Linked DNA regions of Homo sapiens. The protein of the gene in region 5 purifies or fractionates together with the protein of the main gene of each other region. This does not show direct contact. Each region holds a gene or a part of one and is shown on either strand. Other genes may lie near its edges. The genes, in order: RIOK1, LYST, KIF16B, MYB, GAR1, TAF1 and COPRS.

What was found.
Region 1: the proteins of GAR1 (region 5) and RIOK1 purify together in Homo sapiens (affinity purification with mass spectrometry; 4 studies listed by BioGRID and IntAct, with this or other methods). This does not show direct contact.
Region 2: the proteins of GAR1 (region 5) and LYST purify together in Homo sapiens (affinity purification with mass spectrometry; one large-scale study listed by BioGRID and IntAct). This does not show direct contact.
Region 3: the proteins of GAR1 (region 5) and KIF16B purify together in Homo sapiens (affinity purification with mass spectrometry; one large-scale study listed by BioGRID and IntAct). This does not show direct contact.
Region 4: the proteins of GAR1 (region 5) and MYB purify together in Homo sapiens (co-immunoprecipitation; one large-scale study listed by IntAct). This does not show direct contact.
Region 6: the proteins of GAR1 (region 5) and TAF1 purify together in Homo sapiens (affinity purification with mass spectrometry, with the first as the bait; one large-scale study listed by BioGRID). This does not show direct contact.
Region 7: the proteins of GAR1 (region 5) and COPRS purify together in Homo sapiens (affinity purification with mass spectrometry; 4 studies listed by BioGRID and IntAct, with this or other methods). This does not show direct contact.

Annotation. Positions count from the first base shown.
Region 1 is NC_000006.12:7,406,510-7,411,110, reverse strand, and holds part of RIOK1 (serine/threonine-protein kinase RIO1), read right to left. Parts: intron 726-4,601; coding exon 660-725; intron 1-659. UniProt on the Homo sapiens protein: Involved in the final steps of cytoplasmic maturation of the 40S ribosomal subunit. Involved in processing of 18S-E pre-rRNA to the mature 18S rRNA. Required for the recycling of NOB1 and PNO1 from the late 40S precursor.
Region 2 is NC_000001.11:235,810,896-235,815,496, reverse strand, and holds part of LYST (lysosomal-trafficking regulator), read left to right. Parts: intron 1-2,435; coding exon 2,436-2,526; intron 2,527-4,601. UniProt on the Homo sapiens protein: Adapter protein that regulates and/or fission of intracellular vesicles such as lysosomes. Might regulate trafficking of effectors involved in exocytosis.
Region 3 is NC_000020.11:16,563,067-16,567,667, reverse strand, and holds part of KIF16B (kinesin-like protein KIF16B), read left to right. Parts: intron 1-4,601. UniProt on the Homo sapiens protein: Plus end-directed microtubule-dependent motor protein involved in endosome transport and receptor recycling and degradation.
Region 4 is NC_000006.12:135,187,393-135,191,993, forward strand, and holds part of MYB (transcriptional activator Myb), read left to right. Parts: intron 1-441; coding exon 442-513; intron 514-2,398; coding exon 2,399-2,491; intron 2,492-2,734; coding exon 2,735-2,955; intron 2,956-4,601. UniProt on the Homo sapiens protein: Transcriptional activator; DNA-binding protein that specifically recognize the sequence 5'-YAAC[GT]G-3'. Plays an important role in the control of proliferation and differentiation of hematopoietic progenitor cells.
Region 5 is NC_000004.12:109,822,000-109,826,338, reverse strand, and holds the end of GAR1 (H/ACA ribonucleoprotein complex subunit 1), read right to left. Parts: intron 3,993-4,339; coding exon 3,851-3,992; intron 2,375-3,850; coding exon 2,306-2,374; intron 1,922-2,305; coding exon 1,908-1,921; 3' UTR 1,602-1,907; downstream 1-1,601. UniProt on the Homo sapiens protein: Required for ribosome biogenesis and telomere maintenance. Part of the H/ACA small nucleolar ribonucleoprotein (H/ACA snoRNP) complex, which catalyzes pseudouridylation of rRNA.
Region 6 is NC_000023.11:71,379,101-71,383,701, forward strand, and holds part of TAF1 (transcription initiation factor TFIID subunit 1), read left to right. Parts: intron 1-2,642; coding exon 2,643-2,819; intron 2,820-3,435; coding exon 3,436-3,563; intron 3,564-3,660; coding exon 3,661-3,768; intron 3,769-3,890; coding exon 3,891-4,064; intron 4,065-4,601. UniProt on the Homo sapiens protein: The TFIID basal transcription factor complex plays a major role in the initiation of RNA polymerase II (Pol II)-dependent transcription.
Region 7 is NC_000017.11:31,851,371-31,854,908, reverse strand, and holds the end of COPRS (coordinator of PRMT5 and differentiation stimulator), read left to right. Parts: intron 1-1,878; coding exon 1,879-2,097; intron 2,098-2,600; coding exon 2,601-2,770; 3' UTR 2,771-3,038; downstream 3,039-3,538. UniProt on the Homo sapiens protein: Histone-binding protein required for histone H4 methyltransferase activity of PRMT5.

The DNA.
Region 1 (4,601 bases), on a different chromosome or scaffold from region 5:
TTAAGGAAGGGAAAAAAAACATTAGAGCTGATTCAAGATTATCCTTAGAATAACACTTCTCCTTCATTTTTGTTCCAAAAAGCTTTTCTGAGCAGGAGGGAAAGGGGCGGAATTACAGTTGGCAAGCGCTGCCTGGCTATGCCTTACGAAACATACCCAGCTGCTACAGTGAAAAAGGTGGAGAGCTGCCGACAAACACAGGGCACCTCATAGTCAACCATTAAGAGTTGTGAGAATTTTTTTTAAAAGCCTACTATGGCTCCTTCACAAAAAAACACCCTGACTCGTTTTTATCAAAGCATAATATTTAAAATCTATAACATTTCTAGAATCAATATTTAAGTCATTTAAAAACTCACATTTGCAAATTAAAAACAGGCTTTTCCTTCTTGACGCCTATATCCTAACAGGCTCTTTAAAAATTTTCTCCATCTAGGACAATGGGCTAACAGGTTGCTGAGTGGACCAATACAGTGAAATGTAAACTATCCAACTTGGCTCACTTAAATCATTTACTATAATATATCTTAAGGAAATATTACCATCATTTGAAAAAGCTGCTTATCTATTTAAATCAAGTTTATGCTCTAGCAACATAAAAAAAAAAACCCTCAAAACACAAGTGTTTCCAAAGGCTGTGAATAGATAATAAATCCTACCTCTTCATCCACATGATCTTGGCTAGACCGTTCTTCCTTGGTCCTTTGAGATGCTATTTCCATGGCCTTGGAAAGAAAACAAAAATGACTTTCTTTTATATTCAAACTGCAGAAGGCACATCCATGTCCCAGTTTTGGTATAAAATTGTTCCAGTCTTTTTAAGTATCACCTCCTCACACTTAGGAAAGCATTTAGTGAGGTCTAATGGTACAAGTTAGCTTTCCAGCACAGACCTCACCAAAAAGGCTGCCATCAACCCAAAAGTAACAATAAATCAAACTCTTCTAGCCTAGGGGGATCCCTAGCCCCCCTTTTTCAAAAGTTATGCTACTTTTACTAAATTTAAATAATTAGCTTTTGCATTTAGTAAATGCTTTAGCATTTACTAAAGGAATACAGAGACCTAAAGAATGAAAGAACCATTCCTTAAATCCTGAGCAGTCGGCGAAGGGAATTGCAAAGGCTGGCTGTAAATCTTGAATATACGGCTTTATTGCTGCTGCACTGAAGAAAGCTCTCTGAGCAAACAATGACTGAAACGAGGGTGACAAAGATTCCAAAGGGTTCTTTTGGTTTGTAAAACTGAGTGTTCTCTTCTCTATATAGAAGAAAGGAAAAAATAGTGGGAGCAGAGGTTTTTTTTTTTTTTTTTTTTGAGTTTAGACACGAAAATCAGTGCTGACCCAGGCACAGTGGCTCACGCCTCTAATCCCAGCACTTTGGGAGGTGAGGCCAGCAGATCACCTGAGATCAGGAGTTTGTGACCAGCCTGGGCAATATGGGGAAACTCCGTCTCTACTAAAAATACAAAAATTAGGCCAGGTGCAGTCTAATTACAGGCTCATGCCTGTAATCCCAGCACTTTGGGAGGCTGAGGCTCACGCCTGTAATCCCAGCACTTTGGGAGGCTGAGGCTCACGTCTGTAATCCCAGCACTTTGGGAGGCTGAGGCGGCTGGATCATGAGATCAGGAGTTCCAGACCAGCCTAGTCAACATGGTGAAAACCCGTCTCTACTAAAAACACAAAAATTAGCCAGGCATGCTAACATGCACCTGAAATCTCAGTTACTTGGAGGCTGAGGCAGGAGAATCACTTGAACCCGGGAGGCAGAGGTTGTGGTGAGCCGAGATCGTGCCACTGTACTCCAGCATGGGTGAGAGAGCCAGACTCCATCTCAAACACACACACACACACACACACACACACACACACACACACACACACACACACACACAATTAGTCGGGAGTGGTGGTGGGCTCCTGTAATCCCAGCTACTGGGTGCCTGTAATCCCAGCTACTGGGGAGGCTGAGGCAGAAGAACTGCTTTAACCTGGGAGGCGGAGATTGCAGTGAGCCGAAATTGCACACTGCACTCCAGCCTGGGTGACAAGAGCGAAACTCCGTCAAAAAAATAAATAAATAAAAGAGGCCGGGTGCGGTGGCTCACACCTATGATCCCAGCACTTTGGGAGGCCGAGGCGGATGGATCACCTGAGGTCAGGAGTTCAAGGCCAGCCTGACCAACATGGAGAAACCCCATCTCTACTAAAAATACAAAATTAGCTGGGCATGGGGGCGCATGCCTGTAATCCCAGCTACTCGGGAGGCTGAGGCAGGAGAATCGCTTGAACCCAGGAAGCAAAGGTTGCAGTGAGCCGAGATTGCCCCACTGCACTCCAGCCTGGGCAACAAGAGGGAAACTCCATTTAAAAAAAAAAAAAAGAAAAAGAAAAAGAAAGTCAGTGCTAAGTTAAAAAGTTGAGGAATAAAAATGACACACTTATTTATTCCATTAACAGATGTGATTGCCTACTATGGGCCAGATATTGGGTACTTGGCAATAGAGAAAACTCCTGTTCCATAAAAGTTCATAATTGAGGGTGACAGAATTAGGGACTTAGTATAATAAGTGACACAGTGTGACTACTTCTATTATAGTTGTAGGAGACTACACCTATGAAAACAATTTCTGCTGAAATACCCCTCCAGAGAGCTTTCTAACTGGAGCTTTAAAGTTCACCAGGCGGAGCAAAGTTGAGCAAAGGCAGAAATGGGAAGGTATTGCAAGGAAATGGAAAAAGAGGAAAGGACAGGATAAAACCTGAAGACCTGGCCAGGCAAGGCGACTTATGCCTGTAATCCCAGCACTTTGGGAGGCCGAGGCAGGCGGATCTCCTGAGGTCAGGAGTTCGAGACTTGCCATGGCCAACATGGTGAAACCTTATCTCTACAAAAATACAAAAATTAGCTGGGCATGATGGCAGGTGCCCATAATCCCAGCTATTCAGGAGGCTGAGGTGGGAGAATCACTTGAATCCAGGAGGTGGAGGTTACAGTGAGCTGAGATTGTGCCATTGCACTCCAGCCTGGGCAACAGAACGAGACTCCATCTCAAAAACAAACAAACCTGAAAACCTGTGTAGAGGCATACATGCCATGTGTTCAAAACTCTATGATTCAGAGACAAAAATAAAAATAGATAAACTGGATCACATCAAAATTTAAAACTTCTGTGCATCAAAGCTTGCAATCAACAGAGTGAAAAGACAAGTCACAGAATGGGAATAAACATTTGCAAATCACGTATCTGACATATCCAGAAAATACAAACAACTCAACAAAAAAAACCAAACCTGATTAAAAAAAAGACATGGGGCTGGACACTGTGGCTCATGCCTGCAACCCCAGAACTTTGAGAGGCCGAGACAGAAGGAGTGCTTAAGCCCAGGAGTCTAAGACCAGACTGGAAAACACAGTGAGACCCTGTCCCAACAAAATGAAAAAGAAAAAAAAAATTGGCTGGGTGTCATGGTCTGCACCTATAGTCTCAGCAGGCTGAAGCAGCTGAGGCAGGAGAACTGCTTGAGTCTAGAAGGTTGAGACTGTAGTGAGACAGGATTGTACCACTGTACTTCAGACTGGGTAACAGAGAGACCCTGTCTCTTAAAAAAAAAAAAAAAGACATTTCTCCAAAGAAAATATATAAATGGGCAAGAAGCACATGAAAAGATGCTCAACGTCACTAGTAATCAGGGAAACACAAACCAAAACCATAATAACATACACCTCACACTCATTAGGGGGTCTCTCATTGTCAAAACAAAACAAAAAACAAAATAATAGGTGTTGGTGAGGGTATGGAGATTAGTAAGTGCTGGTGAGGATGTGGAGCGATTAAAACCCTTGTGCATTGTTGGTGGTAATGTAAAATGGTGCAGCCACTACAGTAAACAGTATGGTGGGTTCCTCAGAAACTTGAAAATAGAAATATCATTTGATCCAGCAATTCTACTTCTGGGTGTATATTCGAAAGAACTGAAAGCAGCATCTTGAAGAGATATTTATACATCCATGTTCATAGCAGCATTATTCAGAATAGCCAGAAGGTATAAGCAACCCGTATGTCCATCCACAGATGAATGGATAAACAAAATATAGTATATACATACACTGGACCATTATTCAGCCTTAAAAGAAGAAATCCTAGGCCAGGCGTGGTGACTCATGTCTGCAATCCCAGCACTTCGGGAGGCCGATGCAGGCGGGTCACTTAAGGCCAGGAGTTGGAGACCAGCCTGGCCAACATGGTGAAACCCTGTCTCTACCAAAAAATACCCAAATTAGCCGGGTGTAGTGGCTCGCACCTGTAGTCCCAGCTACTCAGGGAGGCCAGGGTGGTAGAATTGCTTGAACCCGAAGGCAGAGGTTGCAGTGAGCCAAGATCACGCCACTGCACTCTAGCCTGGTGACAGAGTGAGACCCTGTCTCAAACAAAAAAAGAAAAAGATATCCTGTCACATGCTATAACATGGATGAATCTTGAAGACATCATACTAAGTGAAATAAGCCAGACACAAAAAGACAAATACTATATGATTCCACTTATAAGAGGTACCTAGAGTAGGTGAATTCACAAAGACAGAAAGTAGAATGGTGAT
Region 2 (4,601 bases), on a different chromosome or scaffold from region 5:
TTGCTAGGAGCCCTTTTCCTCCAAATCTTTTCATGGATTCCTTCTTCTCATCAATTAAGTATCTGCTCAAATAGCCCATCCTAAATAGCCTGTCTAAAATGTTACCCTTTTTGTCACTCTGTAATCTCTTTCCTAGATAATTTCCTTCATAGCACAACATTATATCTGAAATTTTCTTATTTTTACCCATTATTTTCTGTCTCCTGTGCTAGGAAGTAGGCTTCATGAGGATATGGATATTGTGTTCACTACAGCATTTGAAGTACCTGACACAGTGCCTGGCCTGTTTAGTAGGGGGATCAAGAAATATTTGTTTAACGGATAAAAGAGGAAAATGGGCATTCAGACAGTAACACTTCAGCAGGGTGTTTGCTGGAATGGAAGCAAATCAGGAACATGAAAGCTAAGTTTACTAAGGGAAGCAGGTAGGGTGTTAGAGAAGTCTCCCCACAGAGGAACTAAAAACCTAGAGAATGAGTTGCAGTTTGGCAGATGGGAGGATGGGGATGGAGAATTGCAGAAACAGTGTATGTGAGGAAGACCTATTGGGAGCACAGAGACCAGTAGTTTTCAGGGGAAACCTTTACCAGCTAGATGTATGCGGAGGGCTCATGTGTGGCAGAGGGAGCTGACACTGGACAGCTCAACAGGAATCATTGCCGTGAAGGGTTTTCTATACCTAAAAAGGGGTTTAGATTTTACTAAACCCCTTTTTTGAAGAATTCTGAGCCTTTTCACAACCAGGACACCAGAAGGAGTAGTCTGAATGTCCTGTCTTTACTTTCTCACTTCCTTTGACTCCTCAGCCTATTGTAATTGGAGTTGCAGTCAAATCACTCCATTAAAGCCGTTAGTTAAGGGGCATTCCAGTTACTAAATGCTTTTCGGCCATCATGTCACACAGTGAAAGGGCAACAGCTTTGGCCCTGCTGACTCCTTTCTTTCCTGAACTGGTCTCTTCCTTGGTTTCTCTGGTTGTACTTCTCTTTCTTGGGGCTATTTTTCAATAGAAGCCTTTTCAGCCTTTTCTTTAGCATTGCCCATCTTTAAGTCTTTAAAGTCCGGAGTTTCATTCTTGATGGTCTTCTATTGTCATTCTATATTCTCACCCTGGGAAAATTCACATATCTTCTTGCCTTCCACCCCAATTACTCCTAAATCTTGTTATTTACTTCATATTTTTTTAAGTTCCAGATCTATATATTTACTGTCTACTAAAAAGCTGTCTTCATTAGGATAGTGCATAGACGTCTCAGACTCCATATGTCTGAAAAGTGAATCCATCATCTTTATCCCAACCTAATACCACTTGTAAATTTCCTGTCTTGGTGAATACATTATCAGCTACCTAGATGCTGAAACCAGTAACCTGTGGGTCCTTTTAGATCTTTTCTTTTCTCCCTTATGTGCCATAGATAATCAACTGCAAGTTATTTTAGTTCTACCTTACAGTTTCTCAAATATGTCTCCTTTTCCCTTCTGTTGTTGGAGTACTTCAGAAAGTCATCATCTCTCTCATCTGGATTATTGTTACCCTGCCTCTAACACTGCTTCCCCTTCCAACTAATTCTGTTCAGCAAATCTGATTGTGTCATCATGCGACCCCCTCTCCCACTGATTGGTGTAAGGCGAGAACTCAAACTTGATTTGTCGTTAAATCCTTTACTACCCATGTCCCAGGTGTCCCAGGTCTAGCTCTCTAGCTCCCATTCTCCTTCCATACTTCTGATAATGACTGCTCCTTTTTCTGAACTCCTAAACTGAATGCTTCTACCACCCCTGGATACTTACTCATACTACATGCCTTCTGCTGTTCTTTAACTGTTTATGTGTATGTATTTTATGGACCAAATGAGGGGACCTTCTCCAGGGCTTGGACCATATCCTCCAGAAAGGGTAAGACAGTATTTTTGTGGACATAGTATGCAGTCAATAAATATTTATTGGATTACATTCACTAATAAGTCTTTCTCTCCTTATATATTATTTATTAATAATGTCAATTTCTCTTTTAAAATCGTCTCTGAGTTTTTCATTTAACTGCATGAAGGCTTCACATTTTTCTAGTAACTTTGTAGCATTGCTTTGCTAATTAATAGGGCTTAACTTTTCATTTTCACCTAGCAAATCTGTTTCTTCATAGGTAAGGAATTCTTGCAATGTGCATGGTGGTAATAACAGCTATTTTTGGAAATATCAGCAGGAGTGTGCTAAATACTGTCAAATACTCTTAGATTCTTCTATCATTAGAAAGGCTTATAAACTTAAAAGTATCACAGCTTTAACTGGATTGAAGATAGGTTAATTTGATTCTTAGCTTTTCAAATGCAGACTTTCAAGAAAAAGGATTTTTTGGTTCAGTTTAAGACAAGACATTAGGAACTGATGTGTCTTATCGCCTTAGAACATGAAGGATTCTTTTGTTACTGACATAGGCATTGACATGTAGAGAAGAACTCCTGACTCTTCTTCTGTCTCTCCTTCCACTGGTATGGAAGATACCTGTCCAAGAAGAAAAGGCAACAGGTATGCTTTTTCCCTTTATCATATCACTTGTGTTATCAAAATTTCATAGAAAAGTTACTTCTGCCTGAATGTTTGATTCTGATTCAGATTCAGAACACTATATGTTATTGTGATTTATTCATACTAAATATGAAAAATTATTTAGGCAAACACATTTTTCCTTCAATAATACAAAAACCATGGTGCTTCTTGGGGGAAGTACTTGAATGTACTGATGATTAGAAAATGTATAAAGAAGCAGAAACACTTATCAGAAGGAGTGAGTCTAGGTGTGCAGCATAACATCAGAAAAATGGATAGTGAAAAGTTGGAAGTGAAAAGTCTGAATAAAGAAATTAAAGTTTCTTTGCTTATTTTAAAGACTGCTTTCTATTACCAGTATTCTATAAGTGACTTTTGCAGTATTTGTTTTAGCTTAGTTTTTCTAGTGTTGCCTTTAAAGTATAATTTTTTTTTTTTTTTTTTAGGCAGAGTCTCACTCTGTCACCCAGGTTGGAGGGCAGTGGAGTGATCTCGGCTCACTGCAACCTCAGCCTCCCGAGTTCAAGCAATTCTTGTGCCTCAGCCTCCTGAGTAGATGGGATTACAGTCGTGCACCACCATGCCAGACTAATTTTTGCATTTTAGTACATACAGATGGGATTTCACCATGTTGGCCAGGCTGGTCTCAAACTCCTGACCTCAAGTAATCTGCCCACCACAGCCTCCCAAAGTGCTGGGATTACAGGCATGAGCCACCGTGCCCAGCCTAAAGGATATATTTAATATTTTGTTTCAAGCTTGGGTAGAATTATTCTATGTAAGGTCGATAGATATTTTTAATTTATGATTTTGAAGAAATCATATGTCTATAAAGTACATGAAACTTTAAATGTTTCATTGGAGAGATTAATAGTTTTCCTCTTGACCCTTTCTTGTGACATGTTTGTGAGATGTTTGAAGATCTCTCAGGTTAAAAAAAAAATTATTGTATTTTAATTCCTGTATTTTTAGTGAATTTCATGGAGCTTTTTTTAAGGAGGTATCTAAGGTTTTGTAATACTGTTTTTCTGCTTATTTATTGATTCACTAACTCTCTGCTTTTATTTTTTTCTGAGTTTGCAGAATTCACAAATTGTTAATCACTTAAGAAATCTGATTAATGCTCTTTGGGGGAAGTTGTCTTCATTGTCTGCATCTTTTGCTTGGGTGGAATTTGTCAGACTCCTTTTAATTTCTCCTCTTCCCATCTGGTTTGCTTTCCCTGTCTTAGTAAAGCACAGATTTTTTTATTTACAGATTTTAATTTATTCACTCTAAATTACAGCTACTTTTTTATATAGCTCTTACTACATACTGCAAAGAGAAAGACTGATCTAATTATCTTTTTAGTTAAAGGGAGAATTCATTCATTTCCCCTGTGAAGTATTTACTGAGTGTTGACCATACGCCAGGCCCTATCTAGGCACCGGGGATGAAATAATAGTGTCTATACCTGGTGCCTAGTTCAGTGCTGAAACATTTGAGAAATAATTTGAATAAAGAATTATTTAAACCTCAGTTTTAGAGAACATTTGGCATATAGTGTATGATTTTGAAATAATTTTAGAAAAATCTTAAAGTAGTTAAATTATATCAGGTCTATGAATACTATTTTTGAGAATATAATACATCCTTACATTTTAATTAGTGGTACTATGGGAAGAGATTTGTAAATGGTGTGAACAACAGCACTAAATACCAGATAATCTACAGCATCTCTTATGTTGAAGTTAGAATATAATATATAGTTTTAAATCAGATTTACTTTCTTAACTCTGTTCTCTTTTGTTTGTTGTTGTTGTTTTGAGACAGAGTCTCACTCTGTCACCTGGGCTGGAGTGCAGTGGCACGATCTCATCTCACTGCAACCTCTGCCTCCCAGGTTCAAGAGATTCTCCTGCCTCAGGCTCCCAAGTAGCTGGGATTACAGGCGTGCACCACCACATCTGACTAATTTTTGTATTTTTACTAGAGACAGGGTTTCACCGTGTTGGCCAGGCTGGTCTCAAACTCTTGACCTCAAGTGATCCCACCCGCCTCAGTCTCCCAAAGTG
Region 3 (4,601 bases), on a different chromosome or scaffold from region 5:
TATTTCTTTACCTTGGCAATTGCATTTCCTCCTCTCACCAATTGACTGACCTATAAAAGCCAGGGGAGACTGAGACCCCTCAGATAATAATGCTGGGTTGAGCCAGCTGCTTCGGTTCCCTTCAGAGCCCTTTATGTAGTGACGTTGCCTCTGGGCTTACAGATGACAGAAGCCCATGGCCTCAGGGAAATGCCGATCAGAGAATACACAACACACAAAAATAACAATAGAATCTGTGTACGGTTGAGATGGAACCTCTAGGGGATTCTAGAGGCTAGAGGAAGAGATCTCCAGTGCTTCTGCCATCTCTTTAGATAAGAGGGTGGAACTTGAGTTGAGCCCTGAAGGGATATTGCCAGCGACCATATAGATAATTTCTGTTAGGTGCTTGGCTGATACTCTTTGGAAGTTGGCATTGTCAGCCCATTCTACAGATGAGGAACAAGGGCTCAGAGACTGTAATAAGGAGGTCTCTTATTCAGAAATAAGAAATAAGACCGCCCAAGGTCACATAGCTAGATACTATGATGCTGGATTTGAATCCAAGTCTCCCCTACTCTAACTTCCTAAAGTCCTTTCATTATACAGAAGACTTAGTTGAGAGGTGGGCAGGGGGTGGTTGGAAGGTAGGAACATGTTTATTTCACTAATGATTTTAGACAAATTGAAGATTTTGTAAGAATTAGTTGCAAGGCAGGTAGACAGGGTGTTGTGAGGACTTTTCTTTGTGAAGCCTGGGCATTTGGGTTTTTGATCTCTAGATCCCTATGCTGGCCAGTATAACTGTCGGCCACCTATGTGACTATTTAAGTTAACATAAAATAAAATAAAAAAAGGATTTTAGTTAATTGCATTAGGCACATTTCAAATGCTCAACAGACACATATTCAATAATGTAGATATAAATATATCCACCATCCTGGAAAATTCTCTTGTGCAGCAAGTCTGAATAAAGGCTTGAATTCCAGCTCTTTTACTTTCTACCTCCATACCTTGGCACTTTATTGAACATGTCTGTGCCTCAGTTTCTTCATCTGTAAAATGGAGATCTCCATAGGACCCACCTCGTGGGGCTGGAATGGTAATTTAATGAGGTAGCATTTCGTACAGTGCTGGGCCCAAAAGTAAGCGTTCTGTAAATATCAGGTATATTATTAGGCATTGTGAGCTACTGATGGTTCTAAAACAGGGCTGTCTTTCGCCAATTAGTGTTTTCTGAAGTTTCATCTAATAGTAGTGTAGGGAAATAATAATACTAGCACCAGTAATGGTGAACTTTTATTTACCATTTGCCAAGGGCTGTGCAAAGTGCCTTTTATGCATTATTATCTCCCTGACTTTCCTGCCACCACTCCGTGACGCAAGACTGAGGTTCAAGATGTCTGTCTGAGTGCTGACAACCAGTGCAGGAAGACAGTAAAGAGAACTGAAATATGACCCATGGCGATTGGATTCTGGGCATGGTTATAATTGGAAAAGGCAGAGGCAAGGGACAAAACTTATAAACAAAGCCCTGAAGAAGCAATCACTGTATTTTCTGATTATGAAAATAATGTATGCTTATGAAACGTATGTGTTATGCAGAAAAATATACCGAAGAAATCAAATCGCAAATTGCTCATAATCCCACGATCTGGAGCTAACTACTCATAAACTTTTGGTGCGTTTGCACCTAGTCTTTTTCCTGTTTGTGTAGGAACGTCGTCATGTACACACTTCTATATCCTGCTTTTTGCAGTTGCAAGAGACATTCTAAAGACCAGTCAGCAGGACATAGAGAAGTGGGGAGTCAAAGATGACTCTGAGTGGCTTGGGGCCTTATTAAGTGGAAGAATGACCTTTCCCAAAGGCAGTGATGCTGGCCCTACGCGGGTTGGGGTGGGTAGAAGGGCGTGTTGGTCTGTTGATTTGTTTCGGGGTGCTGGTGGGAACTCCGGGCAGTAGAAACTCAGGTGAGTTATCAGCTCTGCGGATGCGCATTTGCAGATGGGTCACTGGAAGGTGATAGTTGCTGTGGTGGAAGTGAATTCTGTCTCTCAGGAAGGGTAAAGCAGAAAGAGAAAGGGTAACAGCAGTGCTGCATGAGCCGGGTTCAGGCTGGAGCTCTTCAGTGGGCTAGCCGAGTGACTGGGCAAGTTGATTTTCCTCTTTAAGGCTCAGGTTCTGTTTTGTAAAACAGTGATTCTCCAAGTGTGGTCCAGGGACAACTGGGTATCAGTGAGACTCTTTTATAGGGGGTTCACAACGTCAGAACTGTTTTCACAGTACTACTAAGATGTTATATTCCATTTTTTCATTCTCTCATGAAGGTACAGTCAAATTTTCCAGAAACTACATGGTGTGTGATGATGTCACGGCTCTATGGGCTGTGCATTTTGTTTAAAATTTTCACAGTTTTAATTTCTAACATGGTAACTATCAGTAGATATAATTGATGTTAATAAAAGCTCTTGAGCCTCCTCAGTAATTTTTTAAGCCTATAAAAGCGTCCTGAGGCCACAACATTTGAGAACCACTTCCATAAAATAATGCTGTATAAGTAGTTGAGATCAGATGAAATAAATAAATATATAATAACTGTCCACTAAATCATAGTTACTATTATCTTTTATACTCACTATGGTTACTGACAGCCAGATTTCAGGAGGTAGGAGTGGAGGATCAAGTTGGAGAGAGAAGGGGCATGGAGAGAGGAAGGGAGGAAGGCAGGAGAGTAGAATGTCACGCCTGACCAGGGGGCTCAAGGCTTGGGAGGAGGGAAGGTCGCCAGTGTGAGAGGCTGCACAGTCAGGTGGTCGGGCTCAAGTCTGTGGAGGGGTGGGAGGCAGTGCCATGGTTGTGGGAGGCTTGTGCAGTGTGATTGGGCTGTGAGGGCATTGGAGGTAGCCTGTTGCTGCCCTTCCAGTTAATGGAGAGATGAAAGGAAGGAGGGAGCCTCATTTCCGTTCATCTAAGCAGAGGTTGACTCCTGTAATCTTTTTTTTCTTTCAGTTTTTTTTTTTTTATTATACTTTAAGTTTTAGGGTACATGTGCACAACGTGCAGGTTAGTTACATATGGTATACATGTGCCATGTTGGTGTGCTGCACCCATTAACTCGTCATTTAACATTAGGTATATCTCCTAATGCTATCCCTCCCCTCTCCCCCCACCTCACAACAGGCCCCGGTGTGTGATGTTCCCCTTCCTGTGTCCAAGTGTTCTCATTGTTCAATTCCCACCTATGAGTGAGAACATGCGGTGTTTGGTTTTTTGTCCTTGCGATGCACACGTATGTTTATTGCGGCACTATTCACAATAGCAAAGACTTGGAACCAAGCCAAATGTCCAACAGTGATAGACTGGATTAAGAAAATGTGGCACATATACACCATGGAATACTATGCAGCCATAAAAAAGGTTGAGTTCCTGTCCTTTGTAGGGACATGGGTGAAGCTGGAAACCATCATTCTCAGCAAATTACCGCAAGGACTCCTGTAATCTTTTGAAACTTTTTTACTCCATGTTTGAGGCATGGCCTGGTCTGCATCCCTGGATCCCAGCCCTTACCTGGACATGACAAACCCAGGCTCAGCAGAAGACAGATTTTTTTGTTTGTCTCTTTTTGTTTTGAAGAAGAGAAAAAGAAAACAGGGAGTTTGGGGTTGGTGAAAGAAGGCTGGAGGAGCAAGGGAGGGAAGGGGCTGCTGGCTGGAAAGAGAAAGGAGGGGAGAGTTGCTGCTGTTGCTGACACCTTGAGTTGGGAGCGCATGGAAGTTTTTTCTTTCTTTTAGGTGAACTTTATAAGTAATATGATGCAAATGTCTGGTATTTTTCCTTATACAATATTTTAAAATATCTTTGTGTGCAAAATACACTTATACAAGGTGTATTAGTAGTTTAAAAGGTGCTCTTGAGTGACTTGGGTCACATAATTTGGTTTTAAACTTCTGTTGCTTTATTTTAAACATGGAAACTGTGTGAGCATGAGAGTGGAGTGGGAGAGAGTGGAGTGGCAGAGATCGAGTGTGTATGTGTTTCTTTTTGCCTGTCAGAGAGAGAGAAGTTATTTAGAAATGTCCAGTTGTGTGATATATAGCAGTTTGGTCTAAAGTTGATTGATGTGATACTTCCTTGTTTCTTGACTGTTTTTCTAAGTTATTTTGATAGCTTTGGCTGTTTTTGCAGATTCTGGAATTGGGATGCCATCTTACTGAAGCTTGTTTTGTGAAAGAGAATATGTTAATTATACTTAGACCTGTAGCCTGGGAAAAGAAGTAATAGTGTTTTAGCTCCTTCCTGAGGACTGAGAGATTTATTTTGGTGGCTTTGACTGCCTTTCCTCACGTTCAGGTTATAAAAAGACAGGGGAAAAAATCCTTCCAGGGAGGTTGGTCAGCACTGGCTTGGACTTAGCCCGCACATTCATCCAAGCACAAAGGAGGTAACCACCAGTGGGGCCAGGAAGCTTGCCTTCGGTCACTCCTATTATCCCTGGGCGGAGCATTTGTGTTTTTTGCTCTGTCCATTTCCAAATGTATTCATTTTTCATTGTTGCTGTCCATGAGATAGGAAATAGCTGTTTCTGTGATCAGTCATTTATTTATAGACACTTTAAGTAC
Region 4 (4,601 bases), on a different chromosome or scaffold from region 5:
GAATGCATTTTTTCCTAACAGAGTAAAGCAGTTATTTATAATAAACACTCAATATATGCCAGGCATTATGATAAATGTTTTGCAAAATTGCCTCATGTAATCCCCAAATAACCCTGTTAATATCAGCCTCATGTTAATAAATTGCCCCATGTAATCCCCAAATAACCCTGTTAATTTCCATTTTATAGATGGCAATACTAAGGCCCAGAAAGGTAAAATGGTATACCCGCTTTACACAATTAATAGTTGAGTCAAGATGCCAACTCTGGTCTGATTCTAAATAAATCTATACTCCCAAGTCCGTATATTACATTAATATCTCCTGTATTCGGATACTTTAGAGAGACTTTTTATTCTAGATTCGTTCCCTCATTCACTTTAACTTGAACAGAGTTATATAGTAAATAACTGATATCCTAGGATTACCTTTAAATGTCTTAGGATGAAAAACTGAAGAAGCTGGTGGAACAGAATGGAACAGATGACTGGAAAGTTATTGCCAATTATCTCCCGGTAAGTTAGTAAGTTTTTCTTATAACGAAAGGAAAGCTTCTCCCAAAGATTTCTATAAAATATTCTAGGAGGAGTTATTAAGATAGTGTATAATTTACTCACATTTAAGAAGTGGGAGAAATGCCCTACCCATAACTTATATTTTATATTATAATGCATATAATTAAATTATTAGAATTTAGATTATTAGAATCGATTATTATAATTTAGATTATCAAATTTTAAAAACAGTTGCTTCTTGTTTTATCTTTTCATTTATAGGATAATTAGTATTTTGATGATTTGTTACATGGTAGTTGATTAAACTTGATATTTCCTCCAAGTCAGTTTTTCCTGAATTCCCTATTTTTGTCAATAGCAATACTTTTGGCACCAAGGTTTAAAATTCTGAAGACCTTTCTTGACTTATCACATTCCCCCAACCCCTACATCTAAGCAGTTACTAAGGACCCTGGAATTCCTTTATAGTCAGTCCCGTCCTTTTCATTCTCATGGCTGTGCTGAAGGTTGGGCTCCTGCCCTCTCATTTGGACTATCATATAACTTCCTAACTGGCTTCCCCACTTGTAGTTTTCCATTTTTCTTTCTTTTTTTTTTTTTTGTTTTTTGTTTTTTGTTTTTTGAGATGGAATCTAGCTTTGTTGCCCAGGCTGGAGTGCAGTGGCACGATCTCAGCTCACTGCAACCTCCGCCTCCCAGGTTCAAGCGATTCTCGTGCCTCAGCCCCCTTAGTAGATGGGATCACAGGTGCCCGCCACCATGCCTGGCTAATTTTTGTATTTTTAGTAGAGACAAGGTTTCACCATATTGATCAGGCTGGTCCCAAACTCCTGACCTCAAGTGATCTGCCCACCTCAGCCTCCCGAAGTGCTAGGATTGCAGGCATGAGCCACCGTGCCCAGCCAGTCTTCTACTTTTCCATTCATCCCAAACACCATTGGCAGGTGGAACTTCCTAAAATGCAGCTGTACCTTATCTTTTCAAAACCAACCACAGTGACAGAATCTCACAAATTAAGTAAACTGCCTTGACTTGGCACACAGAGGCCCTCCTCTATTGCCCCAACTTACAGCTCCAGTTCTGTTTCCTGCTTCCTCTCTCTAAGCAGGTTTGCTTGAATTTATTTCTGCTTTACCTCCTCTGGGCTTTTGCTCCTGGTCTTCCCACCTCCTAGAATATTCTCCCTTTATGTCACCAATTAAAGTTCTGTCCATCCTTCAAAGTCCTTATGAAGAGCTCTTCAAGACTCCTCCCAAGGAAACCATTTCTCCTCCTAAGAAGATGCTTCTCTCCTCACTTCAGTATCATTTTGCTTTGGTCTTTTCTTCCAAGTGAATCAAATTCAGCATCTGTGATAGTCAGTCATCTACTTGTCTTTTCCTTCTTATAAGTTTACAAACTCCTGTAACATAGGACCTATCTTTTATGCATCTTTTTTCTTTCTGCAATATAAATACTTTGGTCCTGGATTGAAGCACATCTCTTGTCTGAATGGGAAGCAAACTTTAGTCTTTTAGGGTGGTTTCCATGAAAGCCTGACAACATAGAATCTCTATCAAGCCTCAGGCTATGTAGATACTCTGCAAAAGTATCTGAGGTTAAGGTTAACTTGGCAGGCACATGTGTAGTATGATGGTCCTTTAGATCATGTGGCAGGAATGTTTCCCTCAGGAGGCAGAGTGTCTAATTTTAGATGCAACTTTGATATATTACTTGCATGTTCTGTAGCCTGTAAGTAATGAGGGATAGATGGGCTCTAAACATGCTCTAAAATGTTCTTAAATATTTTCACTGCATATGGTCTATGTGTGATTCCTATTACAACAAAAAATTCACGTGCTTATCACATCATATCTTTATGGTGGTGCATACTTTATTTGTCTAGAATCGAACAGATGTGCAGTGCCAGCACCGATGGCAGAAAGTACTAAACCCTGAGCTCATCAAGGGTCCTTGGACCAAAGAAGAAGATCAGAGAGTAAGTTCTTTCTTCATTGGTGTGTGACTCATAATTAAGAATATTCCCAAAATGCTAATATTTTCCTATTTGAGGAAGCAGGTAAAATGGGCAAACAGGAAGTAGAGGACTCTATTCCCATATTTCCAGTGAATGAAAGCAAATTTTGGAAATTTTCTAAAGATCTTGTAACACTGAAGAATGATTATACTGACTCATTACATAACTTTAAAACATAGGTTATTTTTGTGTGTTTATCTGAAGGTGATAGAGCTTGTACAGAAATACGGTCCGAAACGTTGGTCTGTTATTGCCAAGCACTTAAAGGGGAGAATTGGAAAACAATGTAGGGAGAGGTGGCATAACCACTTGAATCCAGAAGTTAAGAAAACCTCCTGGACAGAAGAGGAAGACAGAATTATTTACCAGGCACACAAGAGACTGGGGAACAGATGGGCAGAAATCGCAAAGCTACTGCCTGGACGGTAATAATATGTCAAAAAATATATTGATCGGGAAGAATGAGGGAGTGGGTATTGAACATTCTGCTTTAAATGTATGGTGAGTAAATTATATTTCATCAGTCGTAAGTGTTTTATTAGATAAACCAGCTACATAGCTTTTAGAGATTGAAGACATCTTAGAGTTTATTTGGTTGAGAACTTCCAGGATCCACCTGACAGTGAGCCCTGGGTGAAGACATTTAGCTTTCCCCAGCCTCAATTTCCCCATTTCCAAAATGAATCATACAGGGCCAGTGTTAGGATCAAGTAAAATGAATGTCAAAGGACTTGGTAAACTATAAAACTCTAAATGCATAGAAAGAAACTGAAGACAGTTTGTCTCTGGCAGTTCACGTAGCTGGTTAAGTTACTCAAAGGAACTCAGCTACCATTTTCCTGATAACCATCATTCATTTCTTTTATTTTTTTTAATTATTATTTTTTAGAGACAGAGGCTTGTTCTGTCACACATGAGTGACAGAGTGCAGTGGCATGATCATAGCTCAATACATCCTTGAACTCCTGGGCTCAAGGGATCCTCCCACCTCAGCTTCTTGAGTAGCTAGGACTACAGGTGCACCCCACTACACCCAGCTGATTTTAAAATATTTTTTGTAGAGATGGAATCCTGCTATGTTACCCAGGCTGGTATCAAACTCCTGGCCTCAAACAATCCTTTCACCTCCCAAAGTGCTGGGATTATAGGCATGGGCCACCATACCTGGCCACCAGTATTCATTTCATTATACCACTTTGCTTAATTTTTTACTTCATTGATTAAAGAAATAATGTATTTCTTGAATTCTCATACTACTTCCAGGTTTTTAAATAATGTCAGGGTAATAATGCTTTCTTTTTAATGAACAAGGCAAGAAAATGACCTCATTATGAGGGATAACTATGGAAGCTCATTTTGTCCCATTTTTCCCACTTAAGTAGTATATAACAGATTTTGTTCCTTTGGAAAGCAATACTTTTAATGATAAATCTTGCATTAAAATGATGTAGATCAAAAATATTAAAAATAGTTTTATTCTTGAGCTTCATAATCCAGGAGAAAGTTTATATAGTATTCTCTAGTGATGCTCCAAAGCATTTGCACCCTTGTGGTTCAGTATAAACTTAGAAATTTTAAGAGGTTGGTAAAAAAAGGCCTTTCCTCCCATATGGCCTGAGAGGATACACTGCTGATTCTTCTCAAAATTAACAGGGCTATTGAACTTCCTCTTTCTTTAGCATACATTCCCCCACCCCCATTGAAATAGAAAAAGGGAGACTTAAACGGTTTTTTTGAATTGAGAAACTGTTTTCCTGAGAATGGAAAGACTTTAGTAAAAATGCGTTGCCTTTTGAAAATATACTGGGGGTTAGGATCTTTCCCTTTGGGATCCCATTTTCCACTCTCGTCTCTGTCTGATTCAGAAAACAATTGGGGTGGCTTTCAAAGAGTAGGAGGTTTTTTGGTCTCAGAAGTTCTCACTAGTGCTTTGAGAGATAAAGAGTGAAGTATTCTTCATCAGCAGCATCTTATCATCCACCAGACTTCACCATGTCCCTCTCGTGGTGTGTAGGCCCTGCTGTGCCACATTCAAAGGAGTAATTTCCCCAAGGCAGCTGGAACTTTACAT
Region 5 (4,339 bases):
AATTTGATTCAAAATGAAATGCCTCAAAAAAACCCAGAAACTAGGCCAGGCGCAGTGGCTCACACCTGTAATCCCAGCACTTTGGGAGGCCAAAGCAGGCGGATCACCTGAGGTCAGGAATTCGAGACCAGCCTGACCAACATGGAGAAACCCCATCTCTACTAAAAATACAAAATTAGCCGGGCATGGTGGCGCATGCCTGTAATCCCAGCTACTTGGGAGGCTGAGGCAGGAGAATCGCTTGAACCCGGGAGGTAGAGGTTGCAGTGAGCCGACATTGCACCATTGCACTCCAGCCTGGGCAACAAGAACAAAACTCCGTCTCAAAAAATAATAATAATAAATAAACAAATAAATAAACCCAGAAACTATAAGGAAAAAAAAGGAAAAGATGTGGAAATAAAAGCTTAAAGATGGACAATGAAAAAAAGATATACATAAGCTAAACGGTAAAATTTCCAACTGGTTTGTCTACTGATCTATATGTTATTTCCATTATTGCCATTTTAGATTTATTTTTAATGTTAAAAAAACAAACTGTAGAAATGTTGCGCTATTATTATTTGTCCTTGGGACAATGCCATCACCCTTTGGTGCTTACTAACATCTTTTCCAAACCACGAGCAAAAGCCCTGGCCCTAACACTCCATGAAAATTTCATCACCACAATTCCAAATCAAATAATCTCCTGTCCTAAGCTGTAAAAGCATAACTGCCTATTCCTGTAAAAACTGTAATTTTCAACACATTTGCTCATCATATATATTAATGGCCTATGTATTTATTCATCCTGCTGCAATTCCATCAATCAGAAAAAGATAAAACCCCAAATACTGACAAAGACAACACTGTATGCTCCTCAAATGAGCATTCAAGAGCGTTCCTCCATGGGCATGTTAGAAAATTTAACAAACGATATAGAAACATCATTCCTTTTGAGAAGTGAAAAATGAATGGCAGGGTAAATGGCTCCATATCATGGCATTCTAACTTGCTACCACAGTCATTTCTTTACATCCACTAGCAATGGTGACCAAAACCAATTTCATTTCTAACATCCTTACCCAGCAATCTGAACATGTAGTATGCAATCGAATTCGTGTAGTATACTACACGAATATTTACGTGTAGTAAATAACACCTTAAACTTTTAGAGTCCCTTTAAAAAAGTAAAAATAAAATAACATTCAGTAAAACTTCTAATATTCCATTTATGTTGGATGAGAAAAATTAACTTTAGAAATTTCTTGCTATAGTTTTCACTTCAACAGAGCTACTGCATCTTTAATACATTACTAATATGGAAAATTTTTAAATCAATTATTAATTGCAATTAGAGAAACAGCTTAACTGATTTATGTATTAAAATACAAAAGGCAAATACAAAGCTATCTTCTCATACATAAAAGGCCAGGGTTTTGAAAGGCAGTGTCAACTTGTAAATTATCTTAAAGTACTGCTACAGTAGTCTATTTTTTAAAAGATCAGTAATATAAATAAACAAATCCTTTTTTCGATCTGCAATTCACTGGGTTTAAGCTTTAGTTATTCCTTTCTACTTTAAAAAATGGGTTTCATTTAATAAACACACTCTAAATAACTTAAGGGAATAAAACACTTTATTTTAAAAATTCAAATATGCTTCAAATGAAAACTCCTATCCATTTATTGAGCACCCACAGAGTGCCAGGCACTGTACAAAACATTAGAAAGACTTGTTCATGCTCTTTTAGAGCAAAATTCACTATTCCGTTGCACTTTGCATGATGCTGACATTTTAGATCCATTGTCATAAAATGACCAAGATCTTCAAGACTTGTTCAAGAAACAAGTTTCCAATCCATAGTAGAAACAGATCATGCAGGTTAATGCAGAAGTCAACTGGTGATGTCTGTCAACTGTTTCACTTAATGTCCTCTCCCTGATTAAGAGAAAATTAAAGTATTAAGGGCACAGAAAATGGATTTTTAATAGTATTATAACCTAAATCTCAAGTTTAAAATCAGCATTAGTTCCAATAATGTTTAGCAAACATACTTTACCAAATTTAACTGTCATTCATATTACACCTTTATTTTTCAAATTAATAATAAAGCAAAACAAATTAGAATTAGGTGAAAAAATTGAAAAGAAAAGGCAAAAAAAAAGTGATATAAAATGAAACCACAAATTAGGCTAAGCAAAGAACACCATGGTGTTCTATATACTTGCTGGCAGAGAAAATTAAACTTAAGTAAAAACAGAAAATGCCAGATAATATCAATTTTAAACATTAAGCAATTTAAAGACTTTTTAAAATACTCACCTCTGAAACCACCACCTCTTCCTCCTCTGAAGCCCCCACCTCCACCTCCTCTTCCACCTCTAAAACCACCTAAAAAACATTTATTAAATAATAACGCAAAGTATTTAAATAACAATAGAATATAATAATCATTAAGTTATTAACTGTATAACCTCTTATATTGATAAGCCTAAAAAGATCAATACAATAACTATAATTATAATGAATAAATATAGATTCACATATTTTATCAGGGAAAAAATTTTAGAAGATAAAAATGGAGAAACTGTAGTAGTTTACCAACTGGGCAACAGGCTAAAACCCCAGATTATTCCATTTCAATAAATTAGAAAAACTTGTTAAAGTATGATTCAGTCTTGTTAAATGTATGACTATTGCCTTAGCTCTTGCTTATGATAAATACTTTTTTGATTCAACTAAGGATAGTTTGATGGAACTGTGGCTTTTTATCCTAACAACAAAGGGTGGCAGATATGGGTGCTTTTGCTCTGGGGGTAAGATAATAAATATGATAGTTAAGATTAACTGAGCTACATAAGTAAGATTTTAAAAAAATAAGACAGCTGTGAATTTTTTGAAATGTTAAATGATACTCAACATAACATGAGAATAGGGGAATCTCTGTTCATCAAATTCTCAAGAAGGTACCCCTGAGAATTTTCCTACCTATATGGACACAAAAAAATACCTTTATGGAGTGAAATGGTGATTAAATTGAGAAACGCCAAAAGTGAGGCGTTCCTTCTCTTTTTCTGATCCAGTAACAAAAGCTGTCCAAGCCCAACTTTCAGCTCCTCTCCCTTTCCACTTTGGCTCTGCCCATCACCCCATCACTCGCCCTTCTCCTACTCACAGGGCATGGCAGCCCCACTCCCCAGAGCCCTGCTCATCACCTAGCTGTCCATAATGATGAATGTGCCCAAACCTTAGGGGAAAGGCATACATCAAAACAGGCATACATCAAAATACCCCAAAACCTTGGGGGAAAGGCATACATCACAACAGTGAGATCACAGTAATGAATTTATTAGTAATAGTTCTTGACATGACATCAGAAGATATGCATTTTAATTCTTGGGTCTGCCAATTGTTTGATTGGGGCAAATTAATTTCTGTAAGTCTCCGTTTCCTCATTCATAAAATAAGGATATCATCTATCTCAAAAGGTTTCGCTGAGTATTAAAAATATATACATGGAAATTAAAAGAATGTATGACCAGCTTTCAGCATGCAGTCTACACTCAATAATATTAACTAAGGAATTAAAATTAAGATAATCTTACGGTTTATTAAAATGTCCAAGAAAACATGAATAACCCAAAGAAATGAAGTCCCTCAAAAGTATACTTTAGTAGATTTTCTTCTTTTTAAGTAAGTTGTTGAAATGAAGCATTATTATTATGGACAATCTGCCAATATTGGAAAGCAGCTTTAATAAAAAGAACCATAAGGGAGGTTTGCTATGTACAAAGCTAAATTGTATTGTATGAATTAGCTGTGAAAGTCACAGTTAATTTCATTAGAAATTTTCCCCAAGTAACTTACCGCCTCTGCCACCACCTCTGCCACCTCCTCCTCTTCCTCCTCCTCGGCCTCCCCTGCCACCACCTCTTGGAGGTCCTTTCTCACCTGGAGGTCGAGGTAAAAACCTCTGCAGTGGCAGCAGCTTATATGGGTCTATATAAAACTGGAAACATAATAGAAGCAATTAGTATACAACTTGGGGGACAGTATAATATAATCATTAAGAAGCTACATGATAGAGTCAAAACTGCCTGGGTTCAAACCCCAATCCTACCACTTTCTACTACATATCCCTGGGTAGAGACTTAATTTCTTACTAACTTAGGTTTCTTTTTTTTTTTTTTTTTTTTTTTTACCTTAAGTTCTGGGATACATGTGCAGAACGTGCAGGTTTGTTACATAGGTACACATGTGCCATGGTGGTTTGCTGCACCTATCAACCCATCATCTAGGTTTTAAGCCCCGTATGCATCGGGTATTTGCCCTATTGCTCTCCCTCCCCTTCCCCCC
Region 6 (4,601 bases), on a different chromosome or scaffold from region 5:
TGTGATTTTTTTTTTTTTTTTTTTTTTTCGGTGAGACAGAGTTTCGCTCTTGTTGCCCAGGATGGAGTGCAATGGTGCAGTCTCGGCTCACTGCAACCTCCGCCTCCCCAGTTCAAGCGGTTCTTCTGCCTCAGCCTCTGGAGTGGCTAGGATTACAGGCGTGCACCACGATGTCTGACTAATTTTTGTATTTTTAGTAGAGATGGGGTTTCTCCATGTTGGTCAGGCAGGTCTCGAACTCCCGACCTCAGGTGATCACCCGCCTCAGCCTCCCAAAGTGCTGGGATTACAGGTGTGAGCCACCACGCCCGGCTGGCTGTGATGTTCTGAGCTGCCAAGAGATAGTGAAATTTTTAGGATCTGAGGCCTAATTCTAGTCCCTGTAATTTTTATTTTATTTTTATGCTCAACCTGGAGGAAGATAGTCCATGTAATTTTTTGCCCTGTTAAGAAGCTAGGCCAGACTCAGGTTTCTTAAAAACATGTGATAAAGATCTTTTTTTTTTTTTTTTTTTTGAGACGGAGTCTTGCTTGCTCTGTTGCCTGGGCCGGAGTGTAGTGGCGCAATCTCAGCTCACTGCAATCTCTCCCTCCTGGGCTCAGGCGATTCTCCTGCCTCAGCCTCCCGGGTAGCTGGGATTACAGGCATGCGCCACCATGCCCATCTAATTTTGTATTTTTAGTAGCGATGGGGTTTCTCCATGTTGGTCAGGCTGGTCTCGAACTCCCGACCTTAGGTGATCTACCTGCCTCAGCCTCCCAAAGTGCTGGGATTACAGGCATGAGCCACCACGCCTGGCCTGAAGTTAAAGATCTTTCTGAACTATAACAGTACTTTATAGTATATTTTTGTTCCCAAGTCCCTTTGTATTTAGAATTCTAGTTTCCTATTTTTCTCCTTAAATAGGTTTTTTTTTTTAAGGTATGCCATGATTAATGTAAAAAACTTTGAAAATACAGTATAGTGTTAAAGTCACTGGTAATCTATCTGGAGATTATCAACTGTTAAGTTTTGGTGTATTTTCAGTGTTCTGTGTGTGTATGTAGTTGAGCTCATTTCCGTATGTACAGTTTTGCATACTGTGCTTTTCACTTACTAAATATTTTTCTCTCTTTCATTTTTTATTTTTCATTGTTGAGACAGGGCCTCACTTTGTTGCCCAGACTGGTTTCAAACTCCTAGACTCAAGTGATCTTCCTGCCTCGGTCTCCCAAAGTGCTGAGATTACAAGCAAGAGCCACCCCACCCAGCCACATAAATATTTTTGTGTCATTTAGAGTTCTTTATAAAAATGTTTAATGACATGGGAAACTCGTTCATTTTATTTTAATTAAATTATTATTTTTTGTAGAGGTAGAGTCTTGCTATTGTTGGTCAGGCTGGACTCCTGGGCTCAGGTGATCCTCCTGCCTCAGCCTCCCGAGTAGCCAAGACTTCAGGGGCATGCCACCACGTCTGGCTTGAGAAACTCATTTTAAATGGAAATAAAGAAGATATGAAACAACATATATGATATCCTATTAGTGTAAATGAAAAAAAGCAGACTATATAAACATAGAAAGCTGGATTACTTTTATATTTTGGAGGAAAAACAAAATTTTTTCTTTTTTGAGACAAGAGTCTCTGTCGCCCAGGGTGGAATGTGTTGGCGCGATCTTGGCTCACTGCAACATCTGCCTCCCAGGTTGAAGTGATTCTTGTGCTTCAGCCTCCCGAGTAGCTGGGATTATAGGCGTGCACCGCTGTGCCCAGCTAATTTTTGTATTTTTAGTAGAGACGGGGTTTCACCAGGTTGGCCAGGCTGGTCTTGAACTCCTGACCTCAAGTGATCTGCCTGCCTTGGTCTCCCAAAATGCTGGGATTACAGGCGTGAGCCACCACACCCGGATACAAAAATGTCTGATTTTTAAAACCTAAGAAATAGGTTTTTTCCCTTCCATTCTGCCCACTTTATGGGTTATATATTACTATTACGAATGTTTCATAATTTACCGATAACATGTTGCATTTGTTAATACAATTTATTACCATTTATTGTTAGCATACTTTACCATATCATTTATTGTCATAATTTAACCAATTCCTTCTTAAACATTTAGGCTATTTAAATTTCAACTATTATAAACAGTATTGCAGTGGACATTTTTGACTGCAACATTATTTTTATTTATTTATTTTTTGAGACAGAATTTCACTCTTGTTGCCCAGGTTGGAGTGCAATGGCACGATCTCAGCTCACTGCAATCTCTGCCTCCTGGGCTCAGGTGATTCTCCTGCCTCAGCCTCCTGAGTAGCTGGGATTACAGGCATGTGCCACCACACCCAGCTAATTTTTGTATTTTTTGTAAAGATGGGGCTTCTCAATGTTGGTCAGGTTGGTCTTGAACTCCTGACCTGAAGTGATCCACCTGCCTCGGCCTCCCAAAATGCTGTGATTACAGGTGTGAGCCACCGTGCTGAGCCTGCAACATTATTTTAAAGTGAGAAATACACTGTGTAGGTTCCTTTTCAGTGGACACATGAATAACTCCACTAACTCGCTCTACTAACATGAGTAACTCTTTTTATCTTTGCCAGAATCTTGATTGAAAGGGGCATAAATGTTTTCTCTGTTACTATTTCCTCCTTGCACTTTGACTAGGTTTTGCAGCCACTCTTGATGATGACAAACCTTGGTACTCCATTTTTCCCATTGACAATGAGGATCTGGTATATGGACGCTGGGAGGACAATATCATTTGGGATGCTCAGGCCATGCCCCGGCTGTTGGAACCTCCTGTTTTGACACTTGATCCCAATGATGAGAACCTCATTTTGGGTATATTACTGGCAGAGGCCAGTGTTTCTTCTCCTTTGAAAACTTGCTGTTAATGTCAACGGGCAGGAGGAAATCAGAAGGGTTGGAGATGATTAGGACTAGAAACCTGTAGGTAGCGGCTTGAGAGAGCGAAGTTTTGGCTGTTAGTTTATATTATTTGTGTATATGCTTAGGGAACACTCACGTAGGAATGTTGGAAAGTTGCAACTTTGAGATGTCAAGAGCATAGTTTGTTCCGTTAGTGAATCATGGACTCGAAACTTCTAGGTAGCAGTTTGAGAGAGCAAAATTGTGGCAGTTAGTTTTTATTATTTGTGTATTCCCTAGGGAAAACTCATGTAGGACTGTCGGAAAGTAGTACCTTTGAGATGTCAAGCGTGTAGTTCACTTAGTGAATCATGTACTAGAAGTGATTTGGGATGGGATGAAAAGATACAGGTGTAGTTCAGTTAGTAAATCGTGGACTAGAAGTTACCTGGGGGGGGGTGGGATGAAAGGTCTAGTTAAGACCTTCACTGGAACATCCGTCACCTTAAAGAAGAAAACTGGATACTTGTCTGTAGGAAAGGTGAATCTTCAGGGAGAGCAACTCAAGTGATTTTTGTTTTATTCTCAGAAATTCCTGATGAGAAGGAAGAGGCCACCTCTAACTCCCCCTCCAAGGAGAGTAAGAAGGAATCATCTCTGAAGAAGAGTCGAATTCTCTTAGGGAAAACAGGAGTCATCAAGGAGGAACCACAGCAGGTGTGTGAAGAAAAAAGGGGCTTGGTGTTTAGAAGAACAAAGAAAGGTAATAGAGAAGGATAGTCTGACCGAGATTTGTTTGATTATCTATCATTAGAACATGTCTCAGCCAGAAGTGAAAGATCCATGGAATCTCTCCAATGATGAGTATTATTATCCCAAGCAACAGGGTCTTCGAGGCACCTTTGGAGGGAATATTATCCAGGTACAAATAGTGTCTTTTCTGTGATAGAGGAGAACCCCATGGCTTTGTTCTGACGGAGGATATGGGAAAATCTTGCTTAGGATGGAATTAGCTAATTTTAACCCTTCTATTTCCTGTTTTAGCATTCAATTCCTGCTGTGGAATTACGGCAGCCCTTCTTTCCCACCCACATGGGGCCCATCAAACTCCGGCAGTTCCATCGCCCACCTCTGAAAAAGTACTCATTTGGTGCACTTTCTCAGCCAGGTCCCCACTCAGTCCAACCTTTGCTAAAGCACATCAAAAAAAAGGCCAAGGTATAATTGAATTCTGGTTAGAAAACAGCTATAAAGGATATTGGGGTATAAATTAAGGGAATGTACCAGGTATTAGATTGTATTAGGGAATTGGTTATTTTCTCAGATGTGATAGAATGTTATTTTGGTTATTTAGGAGAATGTCTTTATTGTTAGGTGATGCATGTGAAAATATTTAAAGGTGAGGTGTCAGAATGACTGCATCTTTCAAAAACTGTCCAGCAAAGTCTATAGAAAGATAAAAGTTTAAAAAAATGGCGAAATATAAACAGCGACGTGGGATAATAAGTGTTCATAGTACAGTCGTCCTTCGTTATCTCTGGGAGATTGGTTCTAGGACCTTCTCTGGATACCAAAATCTTTAGATGTTCCAGTTTCTGATAAAATAGCATAATATTTGCACATAACCTATGCACATCCTCTCCTATAGTTTAAATCACCTCTAGATTACTTATAATACCTACTCCAATGTAAATGCTATGTGAATAGTTGTTAACACTGTTATTGGTTAGGGAATAATGACAAGAAAAGTCTGTA
Region 7 (3,538 bases), on a different chromosome or scaffold from region 5:
AACCATCACCACTACCTAGTTCCAGAATCTTTTCATCACCCTAAAAGGAAACCCTGTGCTCACCAAGTAGTCATTCTCCATTCCTTCCTTCTCTGAGCTCTTGGCAACCACTAATTTGCTTTCTGTCTCTGTGGGTTTATCTGTTCTGGATAGGCAAATGTGAGTTGCCTGTAAAGGGAATCATAACAATATGTGGCCTTTTGTGTCTGGCTTCTTCCACTTAGCGTATTTTCAAGGTGCATCCATGCCGTAGCATGTATCAGCACTGCATTCCTTTTTATGGCTGAATAATTCCATCATATGCATATACCACATTTTGTTTTTCCATTCATCCATTGATGGACATTTGATGTTGTGTCTACCTTTTGGTGATTGTAAATAGTGCTGCTGTGAGTATCCTTGTTTTATTTGAACAGCTGTTTTCAGTTCTTTTGGGTATATGTTTAGGACTGGGATTGCTGGGTCATATGGTAATTCTATATTTATGTTATGGAACTAGTTAAGTAAATTTCAGCTCAATCACACTTTTTTTTTTTTTTTTTTTTTTTTTTTTGGAGACAGGGTCTCACTCTGTGCAATGGCACGATCTTGGCTCACTGCAGCCTCCACCTCCCAGGTTCAAGCGATCCTCCCACCTCAGCCTCTTGAGTAGCTGGGATTACAGGTGCATGCCACTGCACCCAGCTAAATTTTTTGAATTTTTTGTAGAGACAGGGTTTGCGACATTGTTCAGGCTGGCCTTGAACTCCTGAGCTCAAGCAGTCCACCCACCTTGGCCTCCCAAAGTGCTAGGTTTACAAGGGTGAGCTACCGTGCCCGGCCCAGTCCGATGTTTGGTAATTGACAAAACACGGATTTGAAATCAGACAGTCTGGCTTTAGACCCCTTGCTCTGAACTATCACTTTATTGCTTATCACTGTTACTGTTGTTCCAGTATTAAGAGCATGGCTGTTTTAGGCTGATTGCCTTCTCTCCTGGGACCTGGCATCACCAAAGCACTATGTGCTCGGAAATCCATTATCTTTCCCCAGTCTTTCCTCCGTTATTGTGAGGCCTTTTGAAAATGTACCTTCCGGCCTCCCTGATGTCAGAGGGAGGCACTAGGTGCTGCCCATTGTGATTAGATGGGTTCTGGTCTTCTGCCTGCAGTGCCCCTGCTCCCCTTTGTCCCTGTGCTCACCTCTAACATGCTCTTTGAGGCTGAAGGGAGGAATAAAAGAGCAAAAACAACCGGGCACAGTGGCTTACGCCTGTAATCCCAGCACTTTGGGAGGCCGAGGCGGGTGGATCACAAGGTCAGGGGTTCAAGACCAGCCTGGCCAAGATGGTGAAACCCCGTCTCTACTAAAAATACAAAAAAATTAGCTGGGCGTGGTGGCGGGCGCTTGTAATCCCAGCTGCTCAGGAGGCTGAGGCAGAGAATTGCTTGAACCTGGGAGGTAGAGGTTGCAGTGAGCCGAGATGGTGCCATTGCATTCCAGCCTGGGCGACAGAGCGAGACTCTGTCTCAAAAAAAAAAAAAAAAGAGCAAAAACTTAATTCAGGCTTGTATTGTGAAAGTGTATTATTTATCAGAGGCCCTTTGCCTCAGTGACATACAAACCACCTGAAAATGTTAACTGTCCCTAGCCCTCTTTGTAAATTAAAGGACCTGACAATTAATGCCTTGTATAAGACAAAACGTCTTATTGAAAATAAATTATCAGCTCTTTTAAAAACATACAAAGAAGTGCATTTTTAAAAAAGTGCTCGGTGGCTAAAGAAGACTCTGTGCACTTGTTTTACTACCTTCGTAGTAAGTCTGCCCAAAATTTACTGAGCACAGAGCAGGTCCTCTTTGGTTTGTCACTAAGGCCATCTTCTCTTTGTCAATTTAGCCCGTGGAACACAGAGCATTCCTAATGACAGTCCTGCCCGGGGTGAGGGCACCCATTCTGAAGAGGAAGGCTTTGCCATGGATGAGGAGGACTCTGATGGAGAACTGAATACCTGGGAGCTGTCAGAAGGGACAAACTGTCCACCCAAGGAACAGCCTGGCGATCTTTTTAATGAGGACTGGGACTCGGAGTTGAAAGCAGATCAAGGGAATCCATATGGTAGGTGTGGAGTCTCTGGGGGTCCTGAACTAGGCCTTCTCAGACACACCTGTCAGACCAGCCCTGAAGGCAGTTTGGAACAGGGGTCCACATCTATGAGCTTAGGCTGGTATCTGTTACAGGTCTCCAATTTCTGTGACACCTTCTCTTTTATATTGAAAAAATCCAAATTTTGCATTTGACTCCATAATGTATCACTGTTTTAAAGTCAAAACTGTTACTCTCTCCAAAAATCTCTGCTATGAATTGAGCAGCTGCAGATAGAAGTGCTGTGTTATCCAGTTTGCTTCTTCACTGCTAAGAACCCTTGTCTGAGAAGCATAGCTTCTCAGCTGTTCCGAATGAACGCATTTACAATTCTTCAGGAAAGGAGAACTGTGTGTGTTTTTAAACAAAATAAGTGCAAGGATCTGTCCCCTAGACATACCTTTTTGGCTGTCCGTTTTTACCTTCCTTCCTTCCCTCCTTCCTTCCCTTAATCTGTCTTTTAAAACTGCCTGCAGATGCTGACGACATCCAGGAGAGCATTTCTCAAGAGCTTAAACCTTGGGTGTGCTGTGCCCCACAAGGAGACATGATCTATGACCCCAGCTGGCACCATCCGCCTCCACTGATACCCTATTATTCCAAGATGGTCTTTGAAACAGGACAGTTTGACGATGCTGAAGATTGAGTGTGGAGCTTTCTGCCTTGTAGGTGGGCGGGCCTCCACGTCAAGATCTCTTTTCCTGTCTTGGAGGTGAAAAGTCATATCTGAGAAAATGTTTGCAGTGACCCCTAGTCTGGGGTACACAGACCAGTGTTCCTTATTGACAGTGTTCAATAAGGCCCCGTCATTCTCGCCAGTCTGTTGTTGTTCTTAATGGGCTCCTCCTTGAAATGTGTGTGTGTTTGTGTCAAGAGGAGTTGTGTTCTTTGTAAATAAAGGTTAAAAAGAGAAACCAGTATGCTTCGTCTGCTTTTTTCCCATTTATTTATTTATGGAGACAGTCTCACTGTGTCACGCAGGCTGGAGTGCAGCAGCGCGAACTTGGCTCGTTGGAACCTCCACCTCCTGGGTTTAAGCGATTTTTGTGCCTCAGCCTCCTGAGTAGCTGGGACTATAGGTGCTCGCCACCACACCCGGCTAATTTTTTGTATTTTTAGTAGAGATGGGGTTTCACCACGTTGGCCAGGCTGTTCTCAAATTCCTGGCCTCAAGTAATCCACCCGCCTTGGCCTCCCAAAGTGCTGGGATTACAGGTGTGAGCCACCGTGCCCAGCCTTCACTACTTCATTTAAAGTCCCTGAATGACATTTTAAAGATTCAAACGCTTGGAGGCTTAAAACTACTCTGTGAAAGAAAAAAAATTTTAGTTTTGCTTCTGTAGATCTAGCACTGTTGACCAAGGATTGGAATCCAGGAGACACTGGTGATTTTGTAGCTGATTGTTTTCCTGTT